7 linked regions of the Homo sapiens genome follow. Changing the gene in region 1 together with any one later gene gives a genetic interaction. Each region holds a gene or a part of one and is shown in the gene's direction. Other genes may lie near its edges.

What was found.
Region 2: changes in TRPC6 (region 1) and WDR20 together harm fitness less than expected from each alone (positive genetic interaction), as found in Homo sapiens cells (one large-scale study listed by BioGRID).
Region 3: changes in TRPC6 (region 1) and PLCD3 together harm fitness less than expected from each alone (positive genetic interaction), as found in Homo sapiens cells (one large-scale study listed by BioGRID).
Region 4: changes in TRPC6 (region 1) and GATAD1 together harm fitness less than expected from each alone (positive genetic interaction), as found in Homo sapiens cells (one large-scale study listed by BioGRID).
Region 5: changes in TRPC6 (region 1) and ALDH5A1 together harm fitness less than expected from each alone (positive genetic interaction), as found in Homo sapiens cells (one large-scale study listed by BioGRID).
Region 6: changes in TRPC6 (region 1) and SP3 together harm fitness less than expected from each alone (positive genetic interaction), as found in Homo sapiens cells (one large-scale study listed by BioGRID).
Region 7: changes in TRPC6 (region 1) and PMM2 together harm fitness less than expected from each alone (positive genetic interaction), as found in Homo sapiens cells (one large-scale study listed by BioGRID).

Annotation. Positions count from the first base shown.
Region 1 is NC_000011.10:101,503,167-101,507,773, reverse strand, and holds part of TRPC6 (short transient receptor potential channel 6), read left to right. Parts: intron 1-2,975; coding exon 2,976-3,750; intron 3,751-4,607. UniProt on the Homo sapiens protein: Forms a receptor-activated non-selective calcium permeant cation channel. Probably is operated by a phosphatidylinositol second messenger system activated by receptor tyrosine kinases or G-protein coupled receptors.
Region 2 is NC_000014.9:102,145,658-102,150,264, forward strand, and holds part of WDR20 (WD repeat-containing protein 20), read left to right. Parts: intron 1-4,607. UniProt on the Homo sapiens protein: Regulator of deubiquitinating complexes. Activates deubiquitinating activity of complexes containing USP12. Anchors at the base of the ubiquitin-contacting loop of USP12 and remotely modulates the catalytic center of the enzyme.
Region 3 is NC_000017.11:45,125,394-45,130,000, reverse strand, and holds part of PLCD3 (1-phosphatidylinositol 4,5-bisphosphate phosphodiesterase delta-3), read left to right. Parts: intron 1-4,607. UniProt on the Homo sapiens protein: Hydrolyzes the phosphatidylinositol 4,5-bisphosphate (PIP2) to generate 2 second messenger molecules diacylglycerol (DAG) and inositol 1,4,5-trisphosphate (IP3).
Region 4 is NC_000007.14:92,452,875-92,457,481, forward strand, and holds part of GATAD1 (GATA zinc finger domain-containing protein 1), read left to right. Parts: intron 1-1,627; coding exon 1,628-1,811; intron 1,812-3,497; coding exon 3,498-3,688; 3' UTR 3,689-4,607. UniProt on the Homo sapiens protein: Component of some chromatin complex recruited to chromatin sites methylated 'Lys-4' of histone H3 (H3K4me), with a preference for trimethylated form (H3K4me3).
Region 5 is NC_000006.12:24,534,677-24,538,153, forward strand, and holds the end of ALDH5A1 (succinate-semialdehyde dehydrogenase, mitochondrial isoform 2 precursor), read left to right. Parts: 3' UTR 1-2,531; downstream 2,532-3,477. UniProt on the Homo sapiens protein: Catalyzes one step in the degradation of the inhibitory neurotransmitter gamma-aminobutyric acid (GABA).
Region 6 is NC_000002.12:173,954,527-173,959,133, reverse strand, and holds part of SP3 (transcription factor Sp3), read left to right. Parts: intron 1-2,901; coding exon 2,902-4,261; intron 4,262-4,607. UniProt on the Homo sapiens protein: Transcriptional factor that can act as an activator or repressor depending on isoform and/or post-translational modifications. Binds to GT and GC boxes promoter elements. Competes with SP1 for the GC-box promoters.
Region 7 is NC_000016.10:8,811,334-8,815,940, forward strand, and holds part of PMM2 (phosphomannomutase 2), read left to right. Parts: intron 1-304; coding exon 305-380; intron 381-1,657; coding exon 1,658-1,773; intron 1,774-4,607. UniProt on the Homo sapiens protein: Involved in the synthesis of the GDP-mannose and dolichol-phosphate-mannose required for a number of critical mannosyl transfer reactions.

The DNA of each region.
Region 1 (4,607 bases):
ATAAACAACCATGTAATTTTAGGACACCAGAGACAAAGACAATATCCAGAATCAAAATTGCATCATGCTTCTCAATAGTAGCCACAAAACTATAATTTATTAGAGCAAGGCCTCCAAAATTATCCTCAACCTTGAATTCTCTACCCAGCCAAACTATCAGTTAAGTTTAGAGGTAGGACAAAGTCAGTTTTAGATGTACACGTTCTTTAAAAATTCACCTATGCATGCTTTATTAGACAGCTGTTGGAAGATGTGCTGTACTAGAACAAAGAAGTCAACTCAGATAAAAGAAGATCTGGGATACAGAAAACAAGGACCCCAATACAAAAGCAAAGTGAAGAGAATCCTTGGAATGATACCAAAGGAAGATTCAAAGAGAACATACATGCATCAAGTCTAGACAGCAACTGCTGTCTAGATTTTCCAAAATTGAAAAAAAAAAATACCCACTTAATATGTAGAATGTATTAAAATAAGACTTATATTGATGGAGAAGAGAGTTTGATTGAATTAGTCATATGTATATAGAGCACTGAGAAAATGAAGAGAATTTTTATCTATTAGGTTTAAGGTTATAGGGAAGCTGTACCTGAAAAGACACTATAGTATACCACTTAGCTATGATTAGCACTTGCATTGTCATGTTTTAAACAGTAAATAGTTATCTAAAAAAAAGTCATGATATAACAATTCTGGAATGATAAGGGACCATGAAGGGGGTCTGTGTGTGTGTGTGTGTGTGTGTGTGTGTGTGTGTGTGTGTGTGTTAGAGAGAGAGAGAGATACGTGAAGGTATGGTGTAATGGGAAGTCCATAGGTAATGCCAAACCTGAAAAATCAAGAAGTAACAATATAACCAAAGCTATGTGGTTATAACATTTAAAATTATAAAATAACCAGCTAAAATAGTTAAATTGAAATGTATCACCTCTGGAGATCAAGACATAGAATAAACTAAAATATGCACATGTATAACTTTACTAAAATTAAAAATGGAATTAAAAACAAAGTAATAGCTATGGGACAAAATAGTTACAGATGCTATTCTCTTATAATAAAAGTTGCATATGTATTATCTAATGACCCATTTTAGAAATTATTAGGTTGTATAACTTGATATCGGCCCTTCATGTCATTTTCGAAACTTACAAAGTTGTCTCTTTGAAAAAAACATCAGTTTGGTTGATTTTGAATAGGACTTGGATAGTTAAAGGAATCACTGTTGAATGAAAATCTATGAAAAATATTTGTCAATATGGTGGTATACTCTTCAAGCTCCTCCAAGAAGCAAAATCTGTTTGTGAGTTGCTGAAACTTTACTATCTTCCTTTCTATTCCTGTCCATCACACTGCCACAGACAGCACTGTCTGGAGATGTGGAATCAAGACTGATAAAGGCCAGTAGGGAAAGCAACTAAGATTCTCCAGACCTGAACATATTGGAGGGAAAGATAGCTTATGAGGCCCTTGGATCTTTTTATTGTCCTCTTTATACTGGGAAGTTTGTGACCGTTTTTAAAGAGGGATGCCTCTTTAGCCTCCCCTATAACCTGGCCCTGTTCCAGTTCTGCAAAAACATGCCTTCTTTGGGTTCAGTTAGTGATACTGGTAAGAGTTGAACCTCTAATTGTAATGAGATCCCTTGAAGCTCAAAAGACCTTAAGACACGAAGTTATGAATTAATAACGAAAAAATCTTCATTATAGCATTTTGATCAGAGGAAGAATCACAGCCCCCTTCCTTTTTTTTTTTTTTTTTCTTTGATATAGGATCTTGTTCTATCACCCAGGCTGGAGTGCAGAGGCATAGTCATGGCTCTCTGCAGCCTTGATCTCCTGGGTTCAATTGATACTCTACCTCAGCCTCCTGAGTAGCTGGGACTACAGGCATGTGCCACCATGCACCACTAATTTTTCTATTATTTGCAGAGATGGGGTTTTGCCATGTTGTCCAAGCTAGTCTTGACTTCCTGGGCAAGTGATTCGCCCACCTTGGCCCTGCAAGGTCCTGGGATTATAGGCGTGAGCCATAGCACCCGGCTCACTTTCCCTTCTTATCACAGATTGAAGGACTACGTTGAAGGCTGGCCACTGCTCTGACCACTGCCTGCACCATAGAAGTGTTTTTTCCTACCTGACAACTTGATTATAATTTTCTCCAGTCTGCAGTGATTTTTAGGACAGCAGAGTTCAAGCATTTATTGCCCATATTAATGAAACCTATACTCTAACATCTAGCCGATACCTCTGCTAGAGAAAACTTTCTACCTATACCTAACCCCTGTCTCACCCTCCTGAAGTACACTCTCACCTGACTTCTACTTATCCTTCCATTTTCAGCTTGTCATTTTCTCTCAGAATCTGGGATAGATGCCCCATTATAGGCTTATCATTATAATTAAGCAGCTGATAACAAAGCAGTATGCTGATTGCCCATCTCTCTCTTTGGTCTATAAGACTTGTAGAGGCAGGAAAAAGCATCTATTTGTTTTTTCACTATTGGCCTTCTTGGACCGAATATAGTTCCTAGACCTGGCATCAGAGGGACTCAATAAATATTTGTTAACTTGAGTGGATTTGCTATTGTCTCTACTTCTTAAAATGTAGTCTTATATTCTCTATCACATTGTGACTGCATATGGATAAGAGGGTATGGATATAGACATCTTTCCTAAGTCTATACCATCTATATAGTACATTAGTTTCTATCTGAATGGCACAGAGTAATTATGGCAATTGCTAGTCTCCACCCCAAATGGGAATGTTAAAATCTGCAAAGTGCTTGGCTTTCTTAGACGTGAAGTTCTTGGAATCCATTAACAAATAAATGCATCTTCATTTTATAATATAGTAGGTCTAGAGATGATGAGACAACATCTAATATACTTGAGGATTGTATTAGATGAATGGCAAGTCATTTGGCACACTAAAATGCTCTTAATGTGATTTGTTTACAATCTTTCTGTTTTATTGCAGCCGGGGATCTGACAACAGACTGGCTCACCGGCGGCAGACAGTTCTCCGTGAGAAGGGGAGAAGGTTAGCTAATCGAGGACCAGCATACATGTTTAGTGATCGCTCCACAAGCCTATCTATAGAGGAGGAACGCTTTTTGGATGCAGCTGAATATGGTAACATCCCAGTGGTGCGGAAGATGTTAGAAGAATGCCACTCACTCAACGTTAACTGTGTGGATTACATGGGCCAGAATGCCCTACAGTTGGCAGTGGCCAATGAGCATCTGGAAATTACAGAACTTCTTCTCAAGAAAGAAAACCTCTCTCGAGTTGGGGATGCTTTGCTTCTAGCTATTAGTAAAGGTTATGTTCGGATTGTGGAAGCAATTCTCAGTCATCCGGCTTTTGCTGAAGGCAAGAGGTTAGCAACCAGCCCTAGCCAGTCTGAACTCCAGCAAGATGATTTTTATGCCTATGATGAAGATGGGACACGGTTCTCCCATGATGTGACTCCAATCATTCTGGCTGCCCACTGCCAGGAATATGAAATTGTGCATACCCTCCTGCGGAAGGGTGCTAGGATTGAACGGCCTCATGATTATTTCTGCAAGTGCAATGACTGCAACCAGAAACAGAAGCATGACTCGTTTAGCCACTCCAGATCTAGGATTAATGCCTATAAAGGCCTGGCAAGTCCGGCTTACCTGTCATTGTCTAGTGAAGATCCAGTCATGACGGCTTTAGAACTTAGCAATGAACTGGCAGTTCTGGCCAATATTGAGAAAGAGTTCAAGGTAGGTCACTAACAATAGAGACTTCACCCTCCACAAGCCAGAGTCAAGGTGTATTTACCAGCTTCCCCCATGTGCTCAGCACTGTGCTAGTTACTGTGGACACTAGGTCATTTTATAAGTTTATTCAACAAGCTCTTTATTATAATCATTGTAGCAAAAGTTGTGATCGCTACCATTTAGTGATGCTCTACTGTCTGCCAGACATTTTGCATTTATTATATCTAATCTTTATCCGTTCCCCTTGAGAAGCTATTATTAGTTCCTGTCTAGATGGGTAAATGAAGGCATAGAAAGTTTCGCTAATGCCCAATATCAACAAATGGGAAATAACACAGCTGGGTTCAGAATCCAGGTATACTGCACTCTGAAAAGCCCAGGCTTTTTCCTCCCACGAAACACTATTTCCATGTTCAGAGCACAGTGATAGATGCTGTTGAGGTCAGAAAGAAGAATAAGCTTAAGGAAGTCACAGTTGACTAGAGAGACAAATGCACACATGAATAAAAAATAAACAAAACTACCAGGTAGAGGTAAAAGCAACATACTGTAGAAGTTCAGAGAAAACAATATTTAATTCCTGTTAGGCTGCAGGGAAGTATGTGTAAGATGGCATTTCAGCTGTATATGGTGGAACAAGTAGGATTTTGGAAGGCAGAGAATGAGGGAAAAGATATTTTAGGCCAAGGTGTACCAGCAAAAACAAAACATGATAGATATGAAATAGTAGGAAATTAGAACTTTGACCAGTCAATCTCTTAATAAGAGGTATCTGGAGAGATAAATGGTGTCAGATGCTGCCATTAACCATAAGGGCTGTGCTCCACGTGGAGAGGATGAAAGCTTGCATCCCTAGCTAA
Region 2 (4,607 bases), on another chromosome or scaffold:
CTACTTGGAAGGCTGAGGTAGAAGGGTCACTTGAACTGGGGAGGTTGAGGCTGCAGTGAGCTGTAATCGTGCCACTGCACTCCAGCCCGGGCAAGAGAGTGAGAGCCTGTTTCAAAAAAACAAAACAATCAATAATAAACAAAAACTATACTCAGAATTACTTAACATTCAAGCCAAAGAACCTTCCTACCTTCCCACATCTTAAGATTCCAGGTCACAAATGTACTGCCCAGAGAAGTTACTGAAGTGGTAACTACAGGAGGTAGGAAGTAGATTTAGAGGATTCTAAGGTTTTTCCATCTCTAAAGCTTATATGATTCTGTACTCAGTTGTTTTTTTTTTTTTTAAATGGAAATGGATTCATCATTCTATTGGGGAGGTATCTTCATCTCTTTGATTCATTGCCTACTTGATTTGGAATTGAGAGGGGTGGGGTGTTTGGGAAAGCAAGCTGAAAACATTGTGATTTCTAGGTATTTATGCTGGAAGAGTTTTTTTGTTTGTTTGTTTGTTTGTTTGTTTTTGAGACGAAGTCTTGCTCTGTCGCCCAGGCTGGAGTGCAGTGGCTTGATCTTGGCTCACTGTGACCTCTGGCACCCGGGTTTTAAGCGATTCTCCTGCCTCAGCCTCCGAAGTAGCTGGGATTACAGGCACTTGCCACCATGCCCAGCTAATTTTTGTATATTTAGTAGAGACAGGGTTTCAGCATCTTGGCCAGGCTGGTCTTGAACTCCTGACCTTGTGATCCACCCGTCTCGGCCTCTCAAAGTGCTGGGATTACAGGTGTGAATCACCATGCCCGGCTAGAAGAGCTTTATGTTCATGATGCTGAGATGAAGTTGGGGCCAGAAGAAGAGTCAGTTGATAAAAGCTAAAGTATTTTTAGATCCTGATTAAAGAAGAAGGTAATGGGTTGACTTGAGAGAGAATGAGCGTTCTGTTATGGGAATGCTCATATGGGAAATGTTCTGTCTCTTTGTCAAAAACTGCAGGACCACCTGTTGGTGACATTGGAGGAATTCCTGCTTTGTGTGGGAGGGTGAACTAGATGCCTTTAAAAAAAATTTCCCCCCCACAGACTTGTTTTAGATATTTTACTGCTTCAGAGAGGGTCATGTTCACACCATTCTCCCCTTTTGTAATTTTTCACACCTCCCTGGCTCCCCTTTTATAATTTAGAAAGAGGTTTAGAAGTCTGTAACTTTTTGTATTAGATTTACTTTGAGAAATCTTGTACTTAATTTAGTAGGTCACAGAGGGTTGCTGAATGACTGGAAACTTGTGTTTCTTTTCCATTAAGGGCTATTTGCTGACTTCTGAAATATTGATGATTTATTTGACTTTAGAATTTTGCATACTGAGGGGAAAGCATCTTAATGTATCATTTAAAGCAGGAGATACTTTCATACTATACCTGGGTTCTCTTGGCTTTGAAGAGGAGGGTGGTCATGAGATATTGAAAGATTGCATGGGTGGCTTGTAATCCCAGCACTTTGGGAGGCTGAGGCGGGTGGATCATCTGGGGTTAGGAGTTCAAGACCAGCCTGGCCAACACGGGGAAACCACATCTCTACTAAAAATACAAAAATTAGCCAAGTATGGTGGCGCATGCCTGTAATCCCAGCTACTCAGGAGGCAGGAGAATCACTTGAACCCAGGAGGTGGAGGTTGCAGTGAGCCAAGATCGTGCCAGTGCACTCCAGCCTGGGCAACAAAGCGAGACCTTCCCAAAAAAGGAGGACTTCATGGGTAGATATGAGCAATGGTGAGAAGCACCTGGAATATGTCATGGAAGTCCGTGAGATAGTCATGAATGCCATTCTTTCAGCAAATATTCATGGAGTATGCCTACCAGATATGAGGTACTGTTTTAGATGCTGGGTGTAGTCAGAGTCTCTGCCCTCAAGAAATGTGTCACTTATACGATATTTATTATCATTGACTTAATATAGTGACTTAAGGGTAAAGTGCTTTGATGGCAAACTTGAGCTTGAGCAAGCATCAAAACATGGTGGATTTTGTCACTGAGTGGTTTGGCTGTATGGCTAAAGAACCTTGTTTTATTTTATTTTAGTTTTAGTTTTAGTTTTGGAGACAGAGTCTCACTCTATTCCCCAGGCTGGAGTGCAATGGCATGATCTTGGTTCACTGCAACCTCTGCCTCCCGGGTTCAAGCCATTCGCAGGCCTCAGCCTCCCGAGTAACTGGGATTACAGGCACCTGCCACCACACCCAGCTAATTTTTGTCTTTTTAGTAGAGACGGGGTTTCCCCATGTTGGCCAGGCTGGCCTTGAACTCCTGACCTCAGGTGATCCACCTGCCTGGGCCTCCCAAAGTGCTGGGATTACAGGCGTGGGCTACTACGCCTGGCCAAGAACCTTGTTTTAAAAATAGGAAGATTTTTGTCGTCTGGAATTTAGTATCTCAGAGAATAATTCTGTTTGTTTCTCAGTGAGGTTAGTTTGTGCAGTAATATGAAATGTGATCTTGTTTGGTTATTCAGGAGAAGACCTTAAAAATAGAAGTAACCTTAATTGGTAGACATTTCTAATTGGTAGACTTCAGTTTTAATTTTCAGGACACTTGAAATTGACAGCATCAGTGACAAGTTACCTTGGCTCTTGCCCTTAATCCCAGTATTTTAGGAGACCGAGGCAGGAGGATTGGTTGAGCCCCAGGAGTTTGAGACCAGCCAGGGCAACATAGTGAGAGCTCATCTCTACAAGAAAAAATTAGCCAGGTGTGGTGGTGCACGCCTGTGGCCCCAGCTATTCAGGTGGCTTAGGTGGGAGAATTGCTGGAGCCTGGGAGGTTGAGGCTGCAGTGAGCGGAAATTGTGCCACTGGACTCCAGCCTGGGTGACAGAGCTGAGACTCTGTCTCAAAAAAAAAAAAAAATCATAATCCTCATTCATCAAGCATTTATTGATGACTGGTATATACAAGGCACTGCTGTCTATTGTGGCGGATGTGAAGTGTATTTAACACTCCTGTCTTTAAAGAGTTTGGCTTTGTGTGTGTGTGTGTGTGTGTGTGTGTGTGTGTGTGTGTTTGGAACAGGGTCTCACTGTGTCACCTAGGCTGGAGGGCAGTGGCACAATCATAGCTCACTGCAGCTTCAACCTCCTGGGCTCAAGTGATCCTCCCGCCTCAGCCTCCTGAGTAATTGGGACTACAGGCATGTGCCACTGTGCCTGGATAATTTTTAAAAAATTTTTTGTAGGCCAGGCGCGGTGGCTCACGCTTGTAATCCCTGCACTTTGGGAGGCCGAGGCGGGCGGATCACGAGGTCAGGAGTTTGAGACCGTCCTGGCTAACACAGCGACACCCCCTCTCTACTAAAAATACAAAAAAATTTAGCTGGGTGTGGTGGCGGGTGCCTGTAGTCGCAGCTACTCGGAAGGCTGAGGCAGGAGAATACTTGAACCCGGGAGGTGGCGCTTGCAGTGAGCTGAGATCGTGCCACTGCACTCCAGCCTGGGCGACAGAGTGAGACTCTCTCAAAACAAAACAAACAAACAAAAAATACATACATAAATACATTTTTTTCTTTTGTAGAGACTGGGTCTTGCTGTGTTGCCTAGTCTGACCTTGAACTCCTGGGCTCAAGTGATGCTTTTGCCTTGTGCTCCCAAAGTGCTGGGATTACAGATGTGAGCCATTGTTCCCGGCTGATTTTGTATTTATCATTATAATACAAAGTAGAGGATATGTGCTCTGCATGTGGCATAGCAATGTAAGTATCAAGTGGAATTAAGGAGTAAAGGTGAAGTGGAAAAGTATTTCTCTGCCTAGTAGAAGAATATTGCATTGGGTTTCAAATAGATAATTTGCCCTAAAATGTTGTGTGCAGATCATATTTTTTATAAATTTTTAAATTTGTTGCCTTGTATTTCTAATTTCAGAAATGCTTTATTTTTATTTCTGATTGAGCGTAAGATGTCCACTGCTCTTTTAGCATTTTTCTCAACTTTTCAGCTTCTCTGCCAGTTGGTAATTTGTAAATTGAGAAATATTTTGTGTCATCAATTCTATTTTATTTATTTATTTATTTGAGACGGAGTCTCACTCTGTCGCCCAGGCTGGAGTGCAGTGGCTCGATCTCAGCACACTGCAACCTCTGCCTCCTGGGTTCAAGCAGTTCTCTGCCTCAGACTCCAGAGTGGCTGGGACTGCAGGCACATGCCACCACGCCCGGCTAATTTTTGTATTTTTTAGTAGAGATGGGGTTTCACTGTATTGGCCAGGCTGGTCTCTTAACTCCTCACCTCGTGATCCACCCGCCTTGGCCTCCCAAAGTGCTGGGATTACAGGCATGAGCCACCGCACCCAGACGTCGATTCTATTTTGTAGTAGATTTTTAAAAAGTAGATATATTATTCTAAAAACATGCCAAATCAGTTTGTGTTACAGCTTATCTTGCTTTGTATCAATAGGAAAATAGCTTAAATATATAGGTTTTATAAGAAAGAAGCAAGAATCATTCATGAGGAAGGAATTTATAAGGATTTTATATTTACAAAGTAAGAATCAGGCCTGGCATAGGATTACATCACGCCTGTAATCCTAGCACGTTGGGAGGCTGAGGTGGGAGGATTTCTTGAGGC
Region 3 (4,607 bases), on another chromosome or scaffold:
AGGTAGCCTCCCCCGCCTCGCTCTGCCCCTGCCATCACCACACCCCTTAGCCTAACAGAGAATAGATTTTATATCAAATCAGGTCAAGGGACTAGGGCAGGGAGTGGCTTAGAGGGGCCTGAGGAAGGAAAATCCTTTAGGGCCACACTAGGGAGACCCAGATGAGCGGGGAAGGAGGAAGAAAACACCCCCACAGTGAGTGGGAGTCCTTTGTCCCCCCTCCAGTCCCCCGCTCCTGGGCTGGGCTGCGGACTTGCAGGGAATCATTGAAGAGAGAGGAGCGCTAGAGCCCAGTGAGCACCCGCCATGCGTGAGGCACTGTGCTGAGCTTGCATCAGACCTGATCCTGCTTAATCCTCAGGCATCCCTGTGCGGGAGGTGCTGTCCTCATGTCACATTACAGACGGGAAGCTCAAGGCGGAGGGGTGAAATCACCGCCCAAGGCCACATGCCTGCCTGCTGCCAGAGCCTAGTTTTCCATGATGGCTCCCAGTGAATACTTTTTGTTGTTGCTGTTGTTGTTAGTTGTTTATGAGACAGGGTCTCATTCTGTCACCCAGGCTGGAGTGCAGTGGCATGATCATGGCTCACTGCAACCTCAAATTCCTGACCTCAAGTGATCCTCCCACCTCAGTCTCCCAAGTAGCTGGGACTCAGGAGACTGGGAGACTGGGTACCACCACATCCAGCTAATTTTGTTTCTGTTTTTTGTAGAGTTGGGGTCTCACTGTGTTGTCCAGGCTGGTCTTGAACTCCTGGGCTAAAAGAATCCTCCTGCCTTGGATTCCCAAAGTGCTGGGATTACAGGTGTAAGCCACCATTCTTGGCTAGCCTGATGAATACTAATGAACAATTTTGTCACTGTCCCAGGCGCTTTTCGCATATTATCTCATGTAATGCTCACACTAATATGAGGTAGGTGGTACCAGTAGCCTTCTCTTACAGATGAGGAAACTAAGACTCAGAGAGATTTGGTAACTTGCCTAGGGTTCAAAGCTGGGAAGTAGCTGAGAGAAAATTTGAACCCAGGCAGTGTGGCCCAGAGTCCGTGCTTGTCACACAGTGACTGATAGAGAAGCTGATACCTGCAGGGGGCCTCCTGGCCGCTCCTCTCCCATGGGGGCCCTGCCAGCCCCCAGGAGCGTCCTCACAGGGCTGCCAAATAAAATACAGAACACCCGGTTAAGTTTGGAATTCCGCTAAATGCGGAATATGGAATGTATTTATACTAAAAAATTATTCTTTATCTGAATTTCACATTTAACGGGTGTCCTGGATTTTCTCTGGCCACCCTGTGTCCCCACAGCCCCGTGTGTGCCTGTGCCCTGATGCTCCGCCCCTGCCCCTCATCCTCCCCATGGGCAGAGGCCTGAGTGGGCAGAATCCTGCCCCCTTGCCTCCCCAGCCTACACACACTACCAAGTGCCCCTGAGCGAGAGGGCTCGGCCCATGGCCTGCCTGGGATGTCTTCCGCAGGGTGAGTGGGACTGCTGTGGGTGACTTGGCAGGTGAGGGTCTTCAGAACAACCCCCAGCCCTGGCAGGTGCCTGGCCTGGGTGGTGGGTAAGCTGGGTGGCCCTCCAGTCTAAGCAGGGGCATGCCAGGTGGGACTAGGGGGCTGGCTCTGCCAGGCCCTGTGGTCCCCCTCACATCTTTCCCTGTCCCCTACCCTGACTTCCGCACCCAACCAGGTTTCATGCCTGTTCTGGCCCCAGAGAAAAGGGTGCTGCCACCCCCACTTGCTGTGTCCCACCCGGGGCCAAGGGAAGCACCGCCTGCCTTTCCTGACTTTGTTGATTCTCCAAGGAATGTTATGGACTCTGGCACCGAGCCCCCGCCAGGCTCCAGCCCTGGGTGTGGCAGCCAGCTGGGTCACGGGGGACATGCTTGGTGCCTGAGGTGTGGAGGCTGCCTGCTGGCTAAAGGATTAGGGTGGGAGGGTCTTTGGGACCCCTCGCCATTGTGTGTCCTCTCCTAGAGCCTCACAGCCCCGGCCACCTGGAAACGCTCTTTCTCTACTCCCTGCTCGGCCTTGGCCACAGCTGCTGGCTGTAGCAGTTCCCTGCATGACTCGCATTCCTGTGGAGCCCTGTGTGCACCTCCCGAGTGCGAGCCGCCTATTTCCCCCTGGCTGGCCCACCTTCCACCCTCTCCACCCATGAACCCTGTACGCACACACACACTCACACGCACACACTCACACACATTCACTCACACTCATACACACACACTGTCTCACGCACACACACACTCCCCACCTATGCATACACCCCACACACACCCTGCCCTGCCTGCATGCCACCCCTCCGGGACACGCCTGGACAGAACTCCCACCCTCCCTGCCAGCTGCCCTGGCGCCTGTCTCCACTGCACAGCCTCTATATCCATCCCTGCCTGGGGGCGACCTGCACTATCTTCAGCACACAGGGCTTGTCCTCTCTGAGCTCAGTGGTGCACCTGTGAAAAGGGTGGGATTTGGGGCCCCTTCCAGCTCTGACATGAGGTAGTTTCTGGTCCCTGGTCTTGGCTACCCTTACAGAACTGCTCAGGCCCCAGACCATCCACGCCCCAAACCGCCCGGGCTGCAGGTGGAAGTTGAGAAACTGGGCCTGCCCTTTCCTCAGCACGCCTGACCCCTCTCTGAGGCTGAGATAAGCGGGCAGCTTGGGAAGGTGTCTGAGCCCCAGCTGACAACACTGAATTGGGCGGGAGGTGCCGCTGTCCTGGTCTGGGGAAGGTACCCCCTGGAGGCCATGGGACTAAGGGGACAGATGGATCAGAACACGTGGGTGCCTCTTTCCACCCGGGGCACTAACTCACTTCCCCAGAGCCCTGCCTCAGTTTCCTTCTTTGTGATCATTTACTGAGCACCCACTATGGGCCAGGCCTAAACCAGGCTCCATGTGCTTGTGCCTGTTGTGGCCACACACAGCCCTTTGGGGTCAGACTCCCCCAACTTCCACCACATTTCAGCCCCACCGGGTGCCGACCTGGCTGTCTGCTTCTTTAACAGCATTTTTGAGATATTCATTCACATACCTTATAATTTATCCATTGAAAGTACACAGTGCGGAGCACTTTGGGAGGCAGAGGCTGTTGAATCACTTGAGGCCAGGAGTTTGAGACCAGCCTGGGCATCATAGTGTGACCCCAACTCTACAAAAAAATTTAAAAATTATTCAGGCCTGGTAGTGCAAGTCTGTAGTCCCAGCTCCTCGGGAGGCTGAGGTAGGTGGATTGTTTGAGCCCAAGAGTTTGAGGCTGCTGCAGTGAGCCATTATTGTGCCACTGCACCCCAGCCTGGCTACAGAGCAAGACCCTGTCTCAGAAAAAAAAAAAAAGTATACAATGGTTTCCAGCATATTATATCATTAAACTTTAAAAATTATGGTAAAATAGGCCGGGTGCTGTGGCTCACGCCTGTAATCCTAGCACTTTGGGAGGCCGAGGCGAGTGGATCACTTGAAGTCAGGAGTTCGAGACCAGCCTGGCCAACATGGTGAAACCCCATCTCTACTAAAAATACAACAATTAGCCGGAAATCACTTGAACCCGGGAGGTGGGGGTTGCAGTGAGCTGAGATCGTGCCACTGCACTCCAGCCTGGGCAACAGAACGAGATGCTGTCTCAAAAAAAAAAAAAAAAAAAAAAAATAGGCTGGGCGCAGTGGCTCATGCCTGTAATCCCAGCACTTTGGGAGGCTGAGGTGGGCGGATCATGAGGTCAGGATATCAAGACCATCCTGGCTAACACGGTGAAACCCCGTCTCTACTAAAAAATACAAAAAAAATTAGCCAGGTGTGGTGGCGGGCACCTGCAGTCCTAGCTACTCAGGAGGCTGAGGCAGGAGAATGGCGTGAACCCAGGAGGCGGAGCTTGCAGTGAGCCAAGTTCGTGCTACTGCACTCCAGCCTGGGCAACAGAGCGAGACTCCATCTCAAAAAAAAAAAAAAAATATGGTAAAATATATATAATGAAATTGGCCATTGCAACCATTTTTAAGTGGTTAATTCACTGGCATTAATTACATTCACGCTGTTGTGCAACTATTACTGTTGCCTATTTCCAAAACTTTTTCATCATCCAAACAGAAACTAACCATCAAGCAATAACTCTCCATTACCTCCCCATTCCAGCCCCTGGTACCCTCCCAGCTACTTTCTGTCTCTATGAACTTGCCGCTCTGGGTACCTCACATGGGTGGAATCACATAGTATTTGTCGTTTGGGGTCTGGCTTCTTTCACTTAGCATGATGTTTTCAAGGTTCATCCATGTTGTAGCGTGCATCAGATTTCACTCCTTTACATGGCTGAATACTATTCCATTGTATCGATAAACCATATTTTGCTTATGCACTCATCTGTCTCATATGTTTTTTGTTTGTTTTGTTTTGTTTTGTTTTTTGAGACGGAGTCTCGCCATGTCTCCCAGGCTGGAGTATAGTGGCACAATCTCAGCTCGCTGCAACCTCTGCCTTCCGGGTTCAAGCATTCTCCTGCCTTAGCCTCCCTAGTAGCTGAGATTACAGGCGTGGGCCACCATGCTCGGCTGTTTTCTATTTTTAGTAGAGACGGGGTTTCACCATGTTGGTCAGGCTGGTCTCGAA
Region 4 (4,607 bases), on another chromosome or scaffold:
ATGATAAGCAAGTATTCTCATTTAGAATTTGGGAATATTGATTATACATGTGGACAAACAAACCATAAATGCAAACTATTTATATGATAAATAACTTTGGACTGATGGCTGGGAGGAAGGACCAGCTATTGATGGGTAGGAACTAGCAAGTAGCGGACTGTGGCCTGCATAGACCAGACCCATCCGTAGTGATCCAGATGAAACAGCCACCCTCAGACACTTGGATAAAGGGTCCACCAGGAAAAAACTCCTGGCCTATCAGGTGCTATGTTACAGTTCAGTTACTGGAAGTATTTCCTCAAAAGTGTTTTTATGGTTGAGGTACACATTCCTACAGCTTTACCTGCTGCCAAGTCCCTGTTTCAAGGGAAGCAGCAATGAATTACACTGTTCCCGTAGTCAAGGACAGTATATCTTACCAAGAACTATACCCACTTAAGGAGGTGCTGGATGTCATAAAGATTTGGATCAACCATTATGGGTGTTCAGAGGAGAGATTATTTCCAGCTCAAGACCCAGGGAAGAGGACATAGGATGGATACCAGAGTCATAGGGAGGATTTAACACAGGACATGTACACATTAGTTAGTTGGGTATAAAGTGGAACAGAAATGAATGAGACACAAAGCCTTGAATGCCAGAAATACTAGTAGTCCTGTTGTGGAAGGATATAAAACTCAACTGGGAGTGGAAGAGAAAGGCAGCAGTGAGTCTAGGAGATGTACAGTAGGTTGAGGTAAACATATCCTGAAGACTATAATCCAAAGATTATTTTTGGTTTGAATTTGTTTTGGTTTGAATTCATGGTATCTATTTTCTTTGAGTGGATGGTTGGGGAGGGTGGCATGTAGAATGCATTCTTACCAAATCAGCATGATTTTCAAGACAGTACAGAGAAAAGACTGCTGAGCTGATGTAGGAGCTTTGGCTGCAGTCTCTATGGCTTTCAGCAAGCCGTTTAACCTTACTACTGCTTCATGACTGTGGCTAACAAAGTAGGGATAGTACGGAGCACAGAGGATTTTTAGGGCGGTGAAACTATTAATACTCTCTTTGTATGATACTATAATGGTGGGTACATGTCATTATACATTTGCCCAACCCCACAGAATACACAGCACCAAGAGTGAACCCTAATGTGAACTCTGGTCTTTGATGATGCTATGTCAGTGTACGTTCATCCGTGTAACAAGTGTACCACTCTAGTGGTGGGAGGGGTTATTGATAATAGGGGAGGATGTGCATGTGTGGGGGCAGGAAGTATATGGGAAATCTCTCTACTTCTGCTCAATTTTGCTGTAAACCTAAAACCTCTGTAAAAAATAAAGTCTATTTTTTAAAAAGTGGGGATGGTATTACGGCAATATAAAATCAAAATACTTTATGAACAAATCTTTTCTCCAGATGTAAACTGTCATATATGCACCCTCGTATGTGTATGTATAATTTTCATTCAAACGTGAAACAACTTTAGAATTGGCACCAAACATATAAACACTGATACATTAGACTATCTCGAACACCTTTTACTGACCACTTTGAAAACTTGCTTACCTATTAAGGTTCATTCATAGCTGTGATGTTCTATTTTTATTTTCAATGTGGGATTATCTTCTGTTTCCCCCAGGGAGTATATTACCAAATTGGTGATGTTGTTTCTGTGATTGATGAACAAGATGGAAAGCCCTACTATGCTCAAATCAGAGGTTTTATCCAGGACCAGTATTGCGAGAAGAGTGCAGCACTGACGTGGCTCATTCCTACCCTCTCTAGCCCCAGAGACCAATTTGATCCCGCCTCCTATATCATAGGTAAGTTTGACAAATGGCACAGGTTTTTTTTTAACTTAGTTAACTCTCCAATATTATGTAAAAGAGTGTGTTAGTCAGCTTGGGCTGTCAGGACAAAATATCACAGACTGAGTGGCTTAAACAACAGAAAGTCACTTTCTCACAGTTGTGGAGGCTGAAGTCCAACATCAAGGTGCTGGCAACACGGATTTCTGGGGAGGCTTTTCTTCCTGGCATATAGATGGTCACCTTCTTGCTGTGTCCTCACATGGCCTTTCATGGAGTGAGAGCTCTTTGGTGTATCTTCTTATAAGGACACCATTTCTGTCAGATGAGGGCCCCACCCTTATGGTTTCATTTAACCTTAATTGCCTCCCTAAAGGTCTCATCTCCAAGTACCATCACATTGGGGATTAGGGCTTCAACATATAAATTTGGAGGGTGGCGGGGGGGGATGCAATTCAGTCCATAACAAAAAAAGCATGAGTATTATTAAGTACAAAAAAATTAGAGAGCTTTATAGAAAATATGAGGCATTTTATGTAGCTGGAGTGTGAGTGCTATCAGTTATTTTGAGTTAGAGCAATGTGCATCTACTAAGAAGTGGTATGGATAAGATTTTTTTGGAGTGACCCAGGGTTAAACTGTACTACAAGAATGTATTGCTCAGGAACTAGGTTATTTAGGTTACTTATTTATACAAACCTATTCAAAAATAATTTAGGAAAGAACTATCCCAGTTATCCCATACTTGCAAATTCTCAATATGTGTGCCTCTGCATGCTACACATGTCATCTTAGGCCTTTATAGTATAAAGGCTGATAGTTGAAATGGCAGCTGCTGTGCTTTTGTTAATTTCAAAGCTGCCAAAACAGTTGTGAGATAGACTCACAAGAATTTACTGATTAATACAATTTTTAAAGTTTTCAGATTTTTACAGTTACTTCAGACTTTTTATCTTTCTGCAGTGAGCATGCATCATTACTTTTGCATCCTGAGAACAAGCATAAGTGTGTTTTTGGAGAGAACTCCAGGGACAAATAATATACCACTGTTATTCTCACCTATATGTCAAGTTTGATACATTACCAAACAATTCTAGCCTTCTGCTTATAAGTATATAGAATTTTTATTTACCTTATCTATGGATCAGGATCTCAGCAGAGGCAGTGATGTATCAGAATCACCTTCGGGATTCCTCTACTGCCTCCTCTTTCTAATCCCCAGATTCTGATATGCATCCTTGTCCTACAGCGAGGCAGCATGGCATGAGGTCAGAACACCAGTTCTGGAGCCAGACTGTCTAGGTTCACAGCCTGCCATTTACCGGCCATGTGACTTTGGCAAGTTTCTTAGTCTCTCTTGCCTCACTTTCCTCATATGTAAAATGGGAATAATAATAGTGCCTACCTCAGAAGGTTGATGTGAGGAATGAAGGTATTGATACATGTAAACTTAGAGCAGTGTGGGTACAAAATAAACATGATGCAAGTGTTCAATCACTGTTTTTGGGAGAATGCCATATTCTTTAAGCCGTTAAAGAAGAAAAAATGATTAAGAATAATTTCAAAGTAATGCATGTTTCAAGGGCTAATGCCAGGTTGCTCCCAGAGTGGTCTCTCCCAGTGTCTAGAAATTTTAACATCTTATGAAAATGATATATATGGTCAAAAATGTATTTAACCTTTCCCTTGGCTGCCTTCCAGGGCCAGAGGAAGATCTTCCAAGGAAGATGGAATACTTGGAATTTGTTTGTCATGCACCTTCTGAGTATTTCAAGTCACGGTCATCACCATTTCCCACAGTTCCCACCAGACCAGAGAAGGGCTACATATGGACTCATGTTGGGCCTACTCCTGCAATAACAATTAAGGAATCAGTTGCCAACCATTTGTAGTTCACAAATTAAAACTGGGTTTCCAGGCCTGGTGTGGTGGCTCACGCCTGTAGCCCCAGCTATTGCACCACTGCTCTCCAAGCTGGGCAATGGAGTCAGATTCTCTTTCTTAAAAAACCACAAAAAAACTGGATTTCCAGTTCTCTAATATTCTTAGTACCACAAGATATGTCATAGGTATCTTTAAATGAAATTCTTAGCTGGAAAAGTGACTAAAAAGTTTTTCTCCTGCTACCTAGTAATAAACAAATCATTGTTTATTACTGGTCACTTAGAAAATTAAAAGGGATAGGGCCAGGCACAGTGGCTTATGCCTGTAATTGCAGCACTTTTAGAGGCCGAGGCAGGCGGATCACCTGAGGTCGGGAAGTGGATCGCCTGAGGTCAGGAGTTCGAGACCAGCCTGGCCAACATGGCGAAACCCCGTCGCTACTAAAAATACAAAAATTAGCCAGGTGTGGTGGCATGTGCCTGTAATCCCAGCTATTTGGGAGGCTGAGGCAGGAGAATCGCCTAAACCCAGGAGGTGGAGGTTGTAGTGAGCCAAGATTGCACCGCTGTGCTCCAGCCTGGGCAACAGAGTGAGACTCTTGTCTCGGAAAAAAAAAAAAAAAAAAAAGGCTGGGCACAGTGGCTCACGCCTTTAATCCCAGCACTTTGGGAGGCTGAGGCAGATGGATCGCCTGAGGTTGGGAGTTCGAGACCAGCCTGGCCAGCATGGTGAAACCCTGTCTCTACTAAAAATACAAAAATTAGCCAGGTGTGGTGGCGCACACCTGTAGTCCCAGCTACTCGGGAGGCTGAGGCAGGAGAATTGGTTGAACCCAGGAGGCGGAGGTTGCAGTGAGCAGAGATCGTGCCACTGCACTCCAGCCTGGGTGGACAGAGCAAGACTCCGTCTCAAAGAAACAAACAAAAA
Region 5 (3,477 bases), on another chromosome or scaffold:
AGCACCGCCCAGCCCTTCCTTGCCTACTGTCAGTGGCTTTGCCAAGATGGGAGGAGGCCAGTGCCCACTTGCCCACCGACCTGAGCCTGAGTAAGTGGCTGTCACCTGAGCCTGTTCTTTCTGTCCTGGTGTGGTGCTGCTCCCTCACCTCCAAAAGAGCAAAAGTACTTTCACCACAGTCAACCCAAAAGGGAAAGAATTTCTGTAATTGCCAACCCACTTTGTAGAAGAGGCATGAGCCCTTGAATTTCAGGCACCTTTTATCTAATGAGAGTTTTTACAGCTCATCATTCAAATAACGCACAAAAAACAAAAGCCGCTATGACCGGCGTTGCCTCTCACTTTGAAAGAAAGACTCCGTAATCTTAAACAGATGCAAATCCAATTAGGCGGCCAAGTAGGTGGAGACGAAGCACCTTCCTTTCCCCATCTCTGTCTGTGTAGACTCCACTTACATCTTGTGGTTATTCTGGGTTGTGGAAGGAAAATGTGAATGAAAGTAGTGCTGGATGCAATTACTCCTGAACCCCACCTAGGATTTAACATCCCTCATTGAGCCACTGGGAAGCTATGGTTGAGTAACTAAAGGTCTGGCAAGACCCTGGGCACACAGGGAGCTGCCTAGCATCTGGCCTGGAGTGTACTAGCCACATTCCCAAGGTCCCAAGGAGAAGGAAGAGCTGAAATTCATCTCCTAGTGACAGTGCCCCGGCCCTGTCAAGAATCACATACTCAGCATTTTGACAGTTAATGTCTTCTCTTTATTTGTGTAGTTTTTAGGTGGTTTTATATAACATTTTAATTACTTGTGATTTAGATGTATCCATCCTTTTTCTATTAAGAATACAAATGCTGGGCTGGGCACAGTGGCTCACGCCTGTAATCCCAACACCTTGGGAGGCCAAGGCAGGCAGATCACGACATCAGGAGATCGAGACCATCCTGGCTAACACGGTGAAACCCCGTCTCTACTAAAAATACAAAAAAAATTAGTCGGATGTGGTGGCAGGTGCCTGTAGTCCCAGCTACTCTGGAGGCTGAGGCAGGAGAATGGCGTGAACCCAGGAGGCGGAGCTTGCAGTGAGCAGAGATCACGCCACTGCACTCCAGCCTGGATGACAGAGCGAGACTCCGCCTCAAAAAAAGAATACAAATGCTCCAACATTATTTTTTATAACTCTGGATTACCGATGCTGAGATGTGTGCAGGAATACTTCCAAATAAATTTTTAACATTGTAAGCCAGTAGATTCTTTGGCTGGGTGGCAAATTTTGAGTCTTCTTGCATATTTGGCTCATGGGTTCATAAATTGAGGCCAGAGACTCATTGTATATCCTTGATCAATTTTCTAATTAAAGGAAATAGCTTATTGTTTAGTAAAATGGCCCTTGGTTGTGGGAAGAAAGAGAATTATTTTTAACTGAACGTTTTTGTTGTTTTTTAAATAAAGTAGCCATATGTAACGGGATTTTAAAAATATATACATTTTACAACATGGACTAGAAAAGGACCATTAGATCAGGGGTTGGCAAACTATGGCCCACGAATCAAACCTGGCCTGCCACCTGTTTTTATACAACCTGTGAGCTAAGAATGGTTTATATGTTTTCAAATGATTGGGCAGAAAATCAAAAGAAGAACAATATTTCATGACACCTGAAAATTCTATGAAATTCAGATTTCAGTGTCCATAAACAAAATGTTATTAGAGCATAGCCACACCCATTCATTTATGGTATTGTCTGGGACTGCTTTCTTGGCAGAGTTGAATAGTTGGGACAGGGACAGTATAGCCTGCAAAGCCTAAAAGATTTACTACTTGTCTCCTTAAAGAAAAAGTTTGCCAGCTCCTGATCTAGACCAAGAGGGAGATATTGACCTTACTTGCATTTATCCGGCATTATTTCAACACCTCCTGTGAAGAAAGTACTTTTCTGGCATAGCTACCGTGAGTTCTCAGCAGGAACTTCCCAGCGATGATAATGTACATGAAATTAGCCACGTAACAAGAGTCTATTTGCCTTGAAAAAACAATTATCCTTGAACTTCCTCCAGCTATGCAGGGATTCTCATTAAAGAGCTGATCTGCATCTGTTTATCCATTTTAGTAGCTTTTAAATATGATTTTATGTGAAGTGCCATTTCTTTATTCTACTAAAGAGAGACAGCAGAAATAAAGATCAGAAGCAAATGTGAGCAAATCTGTTTTACTGTTAACTTCAATTATGAACTTGAAATTGTGCCACATGACTTTTTCCTCTAAAAACTGGATCCTAGTGTTTTAATTACCTGTGTGCAGCTATTTTAAATAGCATTTTACTTGAATAATATGTATGTTGTCATTGTTTCATGCTATACTTTGTGGGATAAAACTTGGGAATGAGTGTGGTAAGAAATTTATAAAGTTTTGCTTTTAAAACGTGGACATAACTCATTTTTCTAGTTTTTGACAATTGTGTGTTTTAGTGTCTAGTCTGCAGAGAGCTGTGTGATTAATAAACGTGGAATTAACAGAATTTCCTCTCCCTGTATTAAGGTGTCTGGTTGTGCTTTTTTCCCCCTACTTGGTGATCTTTTGAGTTTTTATTGGATGATATTAGACCAGTTTGCATTTGTGTAAATAGCACTCCCTCCCCCAGAGAGCCGTAATCAGTGAGTGCCTTGGGGAAGGAGCCAGCATGTGAAATGATGTGCCCTAAAACCCAGAGAAGGGCCTGTCCATGGTGTGCGCTTATAGAATGTTTGCTAAGCTGAACTGAGAATTTACCTGGTTTGCAGAGGTGGCGGTCACAGAAAGGTGTATAGGCCAGCCGTCACAGATTGGCCTATCTCTCTCTCCTACACGCCCCACTGTTATGACTTCCTGGGCTCAAACAAGCCTCTCACCTCTGCCTCCTGAGTAGCTGGGACCACAGGCACCTGCTACCACACTCAGTTAATTTTTCTTTCATTTTTTGAACAGTCAGGGTCTCACTGTGTTGCCCAGACTGGTCTCAAACTCCTGGGTTCAAGCCACCCTCCCGCCTCAGCCTCCCAAAGTGCTGGGATTATGGGAGTGCACCATTGTAGCCAGCCCTCACCATAATTTAGAACACAGACAGCACTGCTGCCCAGTGGTTAGTGGACATTTTTGCAAATGTCGTCTCACATTTTACAATCACGTATTGCTCGACAACAGAGATATATTCTGAGAAATGCGTCATTAGGCAGTTTCGTCCTTGTACGAACACTGTAGAGTACTTACACAAACCTGGATGGTACAGCCTCCTACACAGCTAGGCTATACGGTCTAGCCTATTGCTCCTAGGGCTACAAACCTGCACAGCATGCTACTGTACTAAATACTGTAGGCAGTTGTAAGACAATGGCAAGTATTTATGTATATAAACATAGAAAAGGTACAGTAAAAATCAAGTATAAAAGATTTAAAAATTACACTTGTAAAAGGCACTTACCGTGAATGGAGCTTGCAGAACT
Region 6 (4,607 bases), on another chromosome or scaffold:
TTAATACCTCAAAATTTGTTTTGATCCATTCTGTCATTGTGTTTGCAATGATTTTAAAGTAAAATAACTTTTCATTCAGTAAATATATATTGATCTTACTGAGTGCCAGGAATTGTGCTAGGCTAATTTTAATGGATGTTTTTCAAATCTATTCTCATAATCTTAGCACTCACAATGATCTTGGGATTGCACAGTGCTCAATAGTTTATAAAATTTAATATTTTTCTTCTGATTCTTATGCCCCTGCAAGGTAATGTTTTTCCGGTTGTTGACATGAGAAAATTGAGTTGCTGTAACTCACACAATTCCACAGTGTAGCCAGAACTAGAACTCAGTTCTGAGCTTTTTTTTTTTTCTTGTGTAATATATTGTCGAGTGTAGTTTTGGCATAAATCATCTAGTAGTTTTCTGATTCAATGTGTTTTTTCCATTCCATTTAGAAAATAGGGTATTCAGCAAATTTTTTTAAAACTGCAAATTTATTAAATTAAAAAAGTTCCTTTTCTTGCTTGATTCTTTTCCTTAAATTACCTGTTGCTTTTTTTTTTTTTCCCCCATCGTTGTGCTTCACAGGTATTTTAATAATGCTTTTCATTTCAGGCTTATTCAGAAAAGTTCGGAATACATCACTTTGCTCTAGGTTTAGAGATTTTCCTTCAATTAATGGCCTGAATTGCTGAGAAAAATGGCACTACAGTTTATTTTTATCTAGCTTCTGGAGAGGGGATGACTTGGGCAATATTTACTCAGATTTGTCATTTGCGTTAGCTGTATTTATTTTCAAGGAATTTCTTGACTAGAAAGCTGTTCAGTGATGGTTGAATATCTGCCTTTATTACTATTTTGTAAAAAAAAAAAAAAAACACTTTAGGTGCTGTAAATTTGACTTTGTTTTTTTTAAAGAAAGGAAAAGGGACAAAATGCCAGTATCATAAAATTAATTTGTGTCTGAGTTACTATATTCTTTGATAAAAGTTCAATACCTGTAAATTTTATGCTGGTCAGAAAAAATTTCAGTGGATCCTCCAGGTGAGCAATAACCTTAAGAAGATAAAGGTTAGATTTTAGACACACTTTAGTGTAGATTTTAGTATATAGATTTAAATATTTGTAGTTTACTTAAAATGCCAAGAGACCGAAATGAAACATTTGTCACTGTAATGTTAGGAAAGGTGACTTAACATTGTAATTTCTATACCAGATTGAAGTTGCAGAGTGACATGTGACTTTAATGTCTGATGCTTCATTTTAAAATTGTTTAGTAAATATAATTTAAGTGTATTTAAGACAGATCGCTATTTTATAGTTCAGGCCTAGAGATTTGTATTGGGTTCCACAATTTCTCAGCCTTTAGTCTCCTCCCTTTCTTTCAGTCTCCTTCATTGAGCCTTAGTTTATCTTTATAAGACACAGATGTGATTGCACCACTCACTTGCTTATAAACCTTTTATAGCTTTCACTCACTATCTACAGGATAAAGTCTAAACAATTTAGTGGGATCTGTGAAGCCATTTACAAGCGTTGATAAAAATATCTAGTCCTGTTCCCCATTACTTTCCTCTATGAATATGAGCCTTTTTGGGATCTTTTCTTCAACTCCAAACTGCATATTATTATTTAGGGTTTCTTTTTGTGATTTTATTGTTTCTATGCTTTTATTAGTGCCTCTTTTTTAACTGACTACAGGAAAATCTTATATTCTAATACTACTTTATCTCTGTATGAAATCTTTTTTTTCAATCTTGTGTCTTCCACAGAGTGTTTTGATCATATGACTAGTCTGTGCTACTTTTCACATTGTATTAGCATGGATGTGTGTATGTCTGCTTGGATTGACAGTGAACCGTTTGAAGATTGGGATTGTATGTCATGGGTTTACTCACGTGTGTATTTCATCTTGGTAAATTACGTTCAAATGTTTGAATTCAGTCATTTAACTGTGGTTCATCCACTGAAATAACTGTATATATTTCTCAACTATGTCTTCATGAAAATTAGGTAGTGAGTTTCTTTAAGAAACTTAAGATTTTTTTGTTTATCATATTTGCATTAAGTTTTATAGAATGGTTTATGTTGAGAGAACTGTGTATGTCTCAACTGATTTTTATGGTCCCATTGAGATTCCCATTGAGAATATAATGAAACCCTAGATTATCTTTCTCTCCCTCAAATTGTATTAATACACCAGAATACAAAAGGTATATGCCAGACATTCTACTGAAAACTTAGACTAGTAAGTAAAGTCACAGTGTGTATCCTCCAGCTTCTGATCCTAGAGAAACCTTTCAAATGGGGCTACGTTGTCATGTGGTCACAGGGCAATGACTTTTTCTCATTAAGTTTTTTTAAGGTCTTTGTTTTTCATTAGTTCATGGAAAAAGTAGAGTTTGATAGCTTAATGGAATAGCCCTAGCCATGAGTTTACTTTAGAGTATGTTAATAGATGCCACAAAAGAGTAGATTTCATTGTTTGATTTTAGGCTTATAGCAATAAATCTTTTCTAAGTCGGATGACTTAATACACTATGCTTATGTTTCCTTTTTATACACAAATATAATGCACCTGATTTGGTCATAGCCATCTCCACTGTTTTGTTTTGTGTTTTAACTGTGTAGTGTTAGAGATCATAGATGCAGGATTAGAAAATTGGTCTGTGGTTGTGATGAACATTCCGAGAATTTTTTTTATCCCACTCAAATAGGATGAATTGTCTTTGCAGTAACAAAACTGGAAGTGATAATTATTGTAGTTCATATAGTACTGCTCCTGTATTTGAACTCCATTGTGTTTTAAGATAAGTTGAATTTTCAGGTAGTAGGATTTATACCAGTTTTTAGAATTTTTTGAGGGTTGATTTAAATATACCACAAATATATCACCTTTTTGTTTTCTTCATCCAGACAGGTGATTTGGCTTCTGCACAGTTAGGAGGAGCACCAAACCGATGGGAGGTTTTGTCAGCCACACCTACAACTATAAAAGATGAAGCTGGTAATCTAGTCCAGATTCCAAGTGCTGCTACTTCAAGTGGGCAGTATGTTCTTCCCCTTCAGAATTTGCAGAATCAACAAATATTTTCCGTTGCACCAGGATCAGATTCATCAAATGGTACAGTGTCCAGTGTTCAATATCAAGTGATACCACAGATCCAGTCAGCAGATGGTCAGCAGGTTCAAATTGGTTTCACAGGCTCTTCAGATAATGGGGGTATAAATCAAGAAAGCAGTCAAATTCAGATCATTCCTGGCTCTAATCAAACCTTACTTGCCTCTGGAACACCTTCTGCTAACATCCAGAATCTCATACCACAGACTGGTCAAGTCCAGGTTCAGGGAGTTGCAATTGGTGGTTCATCTTTTCCTGGTCAAACCCAAGTAGTTGCTAATGTGCCTCTTGGTCTGCCAGGAAATATTACGTTTGTACCAATCAATAGTGTCGATCTAGATTCTTTGGGACTCTCGGGCAGTTCTCAGACAATGACTGCAGGCATTAATGCCGACGGACATTTGATAAACACAGGACAAGCTATGGATAGTTCAGACAATTCAGAAAGGACTGGTGAGCGGGTTTCTCCTGATATTAATGAAACTAATACTGATACAGATTTATTTGTGCCAACATCCTCTTCATCACAGTTGCCTGTTACGATAGATAGTACAGGTATATTACAACAAAACACAAATAGCTTGACTACATCTAGTGGGCAGGTTCATTCTTCAGATCTTCAGGGAAATTATATCCAGTCGCCTGTTTCTGAAGAGACACAGGCACAGAATATTCAGGTTTCTACAGCACAGCCTGTTGTACAGCATCTACAACTTCAAGAGTCTCAGCAGCCAACCAGTCAAGCCCAAATTGTGCAAGGTATTACACCACAGACAATCCATGGTGTGCAAGCCAGTGGTCAAAATATATCACAACAGGCTTTGCAAAATCTTCAGTTGCAGCTGAATCCTGGAACCTTTTTAATTCAGGCACAGACAGTGACCCCTTCTGGACAGGTAACTTGGCAAACGTTTCAAGTACAAGGGGTCCAGAACTTGCAGAATTTGCAAATACAGAATACTGCTGCCCAACAAATAACTTTGACGCCTGTTCAAACCCTCACACTTGGTCAAGTTGCGGCAGGTGGAGCCTTCACTTCAACTCCAGTTAGTCTAAGCACTGGTCAGTTGCCAAATCTACAAACAGTTACAGTGAACTCTATAGATTCTGCTGGTATACAGCTACATCCAGGAGAGAATGCTGACAGTCCTGCAGGTGAGTCTTAAGTTATGTCATGCCATAAATAAGTTCAGTGATAATACATAGAGGGAAATTTTTTGCTTTAGGTATTTATCAGCATCAGACTCACATTAGAATTAATGATCAATGTTTGTATGAAAATATGTTTGTATGAAAGTAGACATCAAAGTATCTTCCAAATTATTCTTTGAAAGTTTGTAGTTTTTGAAGTTAGGGATTCATGTTTCTATTATGCCAATTAACATTTATAGTTTTTTCTTAATTTTATATTTGTTTTGACATCTGATTGATATTGTCAGGCATTATAAAATTTTTATTTGGCAGGTAGGGTGTCTTGGTTGGCCTTAGTGTGATGTGAATT
Region 7 (4,607 bases), on another chromosome or scaffold:
AGTGAGACCTCATCTCTACAAATAATAAAAAAAAAAATTAGCTGGGCATGGTGGCACACACCTGTGGTCCCGGCTATTTGTTTGGCTGAGGTAAGAGGATCACTTGTGCCTGGGAGGTTGAAGCTGCTGTGAGCTATGATCATGCCACTGCGCTCCAGCCTGGGCAACAGAGCAAGACCCCCATCTCAAAAACTAAACAAATAAATAAATCAATAAGATAATCCTACCTTTGTGGCCAGTAGTTAAAACTGTGCTTTCTAAACTGCAATACAAGAAACAATTGGTATCTTTTTGTTTTTCTCAGAAAGAAAATATAAGACAAAAGTTTGTAGCAGATCTACGGAAAGAGTTTGCTGGAAAAGGCCTCACGTTTTCCATAGGTATTGTATATATTGCCTGTGTTCCAAACTTGGATACCCATTTCCCAGAGTTTGTTGTGGGCCAGTGAGCTATTGATAATGAAGTATGTGCAGTTTTAGGTGGGCAGGAAGATTAAATGAGCAGTCCAGTCTATAGACAAAAACCAACCACTCTCTTTTCTGCATAATTAGCCATAATAGGACTTGCCTAGTCAAGAAACAGCTTACACGCTGTTGGGCTTGGTTCTAAATTCTTACCCAACAGCATTCTTCCTACCTGGACTCCTCTCATCAAAAGAGGAGCACTTTGATTACTAAAGAGTAGGAACTTCTCACACCTTTGGGCAGAAGAGAAGCACTATAGTGAACTCCATAAGGGAGACATGGAATTGAACCCCTTAGGTAAACTAGACCGATGTTTTGGAATCATAGAATGTTTCAACAGCAAGGAACCTTAGGGGCCAATTGGGTGGCTTTTACAGATCAAGAAACTGAGGCCCAGAAAGGAGAAGAGACTTGTCCAAGTTCACAAAGCTGTTGTTTACACAGCCAGTGTGTGAACGTTTCTGGTGTCTAATGCAGAGTTCTTCCTGCAGCACGGACATCTCAGGCTTGTCTTTTGTTAGAATATTCCTGCCAAATGCTTTGCACACCGATTTCTCTTGTCAGTGCTAATGAGTCATTGCTCAAAGCCTCCTCATTTTACTAGCTTTCATCAAGGTAGAGGTTGTAGGAAAACTGGAATGGCAAAGGGATTATATTTAACAGATGAGTGGGTGGGTTTTTTGTCTTCCTGAACTGTGAGATGGACATCTTTCTGACAAAGCTTTGAAAGGGTTTTTGTTGCCCGTGAGCACTGCCTGTAAATCACCTTCAGTGAAGATTCTCATTTTTCCCGCAAAATATGCCGGATGCAACCTGCTTCCGGGCATTTCCCCCTGAGGGTGTGTTAAAGCCCGAGACAAGCACAGCAGAATGAGGCTGGTATCCGATTTTTCATAAGCATGCTTCCTTTAAACCACACGCTTGACAGGGCGCTTAAACGCAAATGCATTTCTCACTCTGAGTTGGCATTCTGTGCCTCAATTTTAGACCTATGTGAAATAATGCTGGAAAAAAACAATGTAGAATTAATTTCTAGAACCTATGCATGAAGTAGTCTAAGTAGCAAACTAGAGTACTGAAAATCAACCTTGGCAACCCACTAACTGACAAAAGAGTAAATTGTTTTTTTCAGTGACATATCATTAGCCCCTTTTTCACCTTTTGCCTTTGTGTGCCCCGTCCCCACCCGGCAGGAGGCCAGATCAGCTTTGATGTCTTTCCTGATGGATGGGACAAGAGATACTGTCTGCGACATGTGGAAAATGACGGTTATAAGACCATTTATTTCTTTGGAGACAAAACTATGCCAGTAAGTAGAGAAGTGTTTGTGCACCTTCATTGTTGCATTTGCGCTTGATGGGGGAAATTGACAACTGGGCTGTTTTTCCTGTACCTACACTTTACCCACCCGCCCTGCTCAAACTGAGCAGTGGCTTCTGTCCTGGAGAGGTGGGTGATTGAGCCACCTTCCCCTCTAAGCTCAGACCCCCGACGCCTCTGTGGAGGCAAGGATCACACTGCATGTTAGTTGAACCTTTTCACCTTGGCTTTGGAATTAAACGTTGGCCACCCTATGTGCCTTCCAGAATACCAGTCCCCGGTGCCACTGTCAAACCCTCTGCGTTTCAAAGCTCTGGCTGTTTCAACCTCATTTTTCCACTGTATTTGTCCACCCGAGGCATTCATTCTAAGTTGAACACGAGGGGCCATGAACGATGGGAGGATAGGGAATGATCTCATGAGCCTGAAACAGGAGAGGACACCAGCAACAGCAAAGAGGCCAAGTGAGTCCCAGGCATCACACACGGCGGGTGCTTGGAGCTGCCCCCAAGGGATGTCAGAAATCTCGAGTTCAGGGCCAAATCTAAACTGAGAACTGAGAGCAGAGCCCAGTGTTAAAGGCCAGGGCCAGCAGGAGGAATACATAGAAGAAATGCCCCCAGGTGTCCTCTCCGTGGGGCAAGGTGGATCCCCAGGAGGTCAGAGAGGCGTTGCTGCCATCAAAGGCCCAAGAGGAGGCTCATCACCACCCAGCTTTGGGCCAGCTCCTTTTCTTTCTCTTTTTTTTTTTTTTTTTTTTTTTTTCTGAGACAGAGTCTCGCTCTGTTGCCCAGGCTGGAGTGCAGTGGTGCAATCTTGGCTCACTGCAACCTCTGCCTCCCAGGTTCAAGCAATCCTTGTGCCTCAGCCTCCTGAGTACCTGATATTACGGGCATGCACCACCACACCTGGCTGATTTTTGTGTTTTTAGTAGAGATAGGGTTTTACCATGTTAACCAGGCTGGTCTCAAACCCCTGGGCTCAAGTGATCCAATCAACTCGGCCGCTCAAAGTTCTGGGATGACAGGTGTGATTTTTAGTACAGACAGGGTTTCATCATGTTGGCCAGGCTGGTCTTGATTCCTGGCCTCAAGGAATCTGCCTGCCTCAGCGATCCACCCACCTCGGCCTCTCAGTTCTGGGATGACAGGCCGCGCCCAGCCCCATCACCTTTTCAGTTACTCCCATCCTCTGGGCCCCTCTGCCTCCCTCCCACATGCAGGCTGGGGGTGTTGGTTACCTTGCCATCAGCAGGCCCGTGTCAGGCTTTCTCGCCATCCTGCACCTAGCAGGTGCATCATAAATGCTGCATATTCAGAGTTTCTCATCCCTCTGATCTCTGGTCCACTCCAAAATCCTTGCTGCACTGCTAAGATCTACCCATGAAAGATTTGCTTTTCAGCAGGGTCCCCACGTCACAGTCTTCCAGCATGAGGGGTACACAGTGGTAGTAGAGGCTTGTTACTTATTTTCAGAATGATAAAACTGAAACCCATAAAGGGTAAGGGATTTGCCGAAGGTCACACGGCTAATGACAGAGCTGGTGGCACCAGAAGAAGTCTACCTGTTCTTTGTATGTTTTAAATAGCTTTATTGAGGTATAATTGATCAGCAAAAGCTGTACATATTTAACGCTCACAGTTTCGTGAGTTTAATCATTGTGCCTCTTTGGTTTTGGGGGCGGTTTGGGATTTTTTTGTTGCTATTGTTATAAGAACACTTAACATGAGATATTCCCTCTTAACAAGTTTCTAAGTGTACAATACAGTATTGTTAACTATAGGCACTTCTGTTTGTCCAACAGATCTGTAGAACTTACACATCTTACATAACTGAGACATTACACCCATTGAACAACAACTCTCCATCTCCCTCCTCCACCGCCCCGTCCCTGGCAACCACCGTTCTTTTCTCTGCTTATATGACTTTAGCACCTTTAGATATCTGATACAAGGGGAATCATGCAGTATTCATCCTTCTGTAAGGGGCTTATTCACTCAGTATGTCTTCTCAGTTTACTCATGCTGGCACAAATGGCAAGTTTCCTTATTTTTTAAGGCGGAATAATGTTTCATGGTATGAATACACTATATTTTCTTTCTTTTTTTTTTTTTTTTCTTGAGGCAGAATCTCGCTCTGTCGCCCAGGCTAGAGTGCAGTGGCACCATCTTGGCTCACTGCAACCTCCACCTCCCTGGTTCCCTGGTTCAAGTGATTCTCGTGCCTCAGCCTCCCGATTAGTGGCTGGGATTACAGGAGCCTGCCACCACGCCCGGCTAATTTTTGTATTTTTAGTAGAGACAGGGTTTTGCCACATTGGCCAGGCTGGTCTCGAACTCCTGGCCTCAAGAGATTCACCTGCCTTGGCCTCCTAAATTGATGGGATTACAGGCGTGAGCCAGCGTGCCCGGTCAGAATATACTCCATTTTCTTGATCCATTCTTCTGTCAGTAGACACATGAGTTGTTTCCGTATCTTGGCCATTATGAATAATGCTTCAGTGAACACGGGGGTACAGATACCTCTCTGAGATCCTGACTTCGTCCTTTTGGCCATCTACCCATGGATTAAAGACTTAAACACAGGACCTGAAACTGTAAAACTCCTAGAAAAAAAACATAGGGAAAAAGCAATGATATTTTAGATGTGACACCAAAAGCACAGGCAACAAAAGCAAAACAAACAAGTTGGACAACGTCAAACTAAAAAGTGTCTGCACAGCAAGGGAAATAATCAGAATGAAAAAGCAACCTACAGAGGGGAAGAGAATATTTGCAAACCATATATCTGATAAAAGGGCTAGTATCCAAAATGTATAAGAAA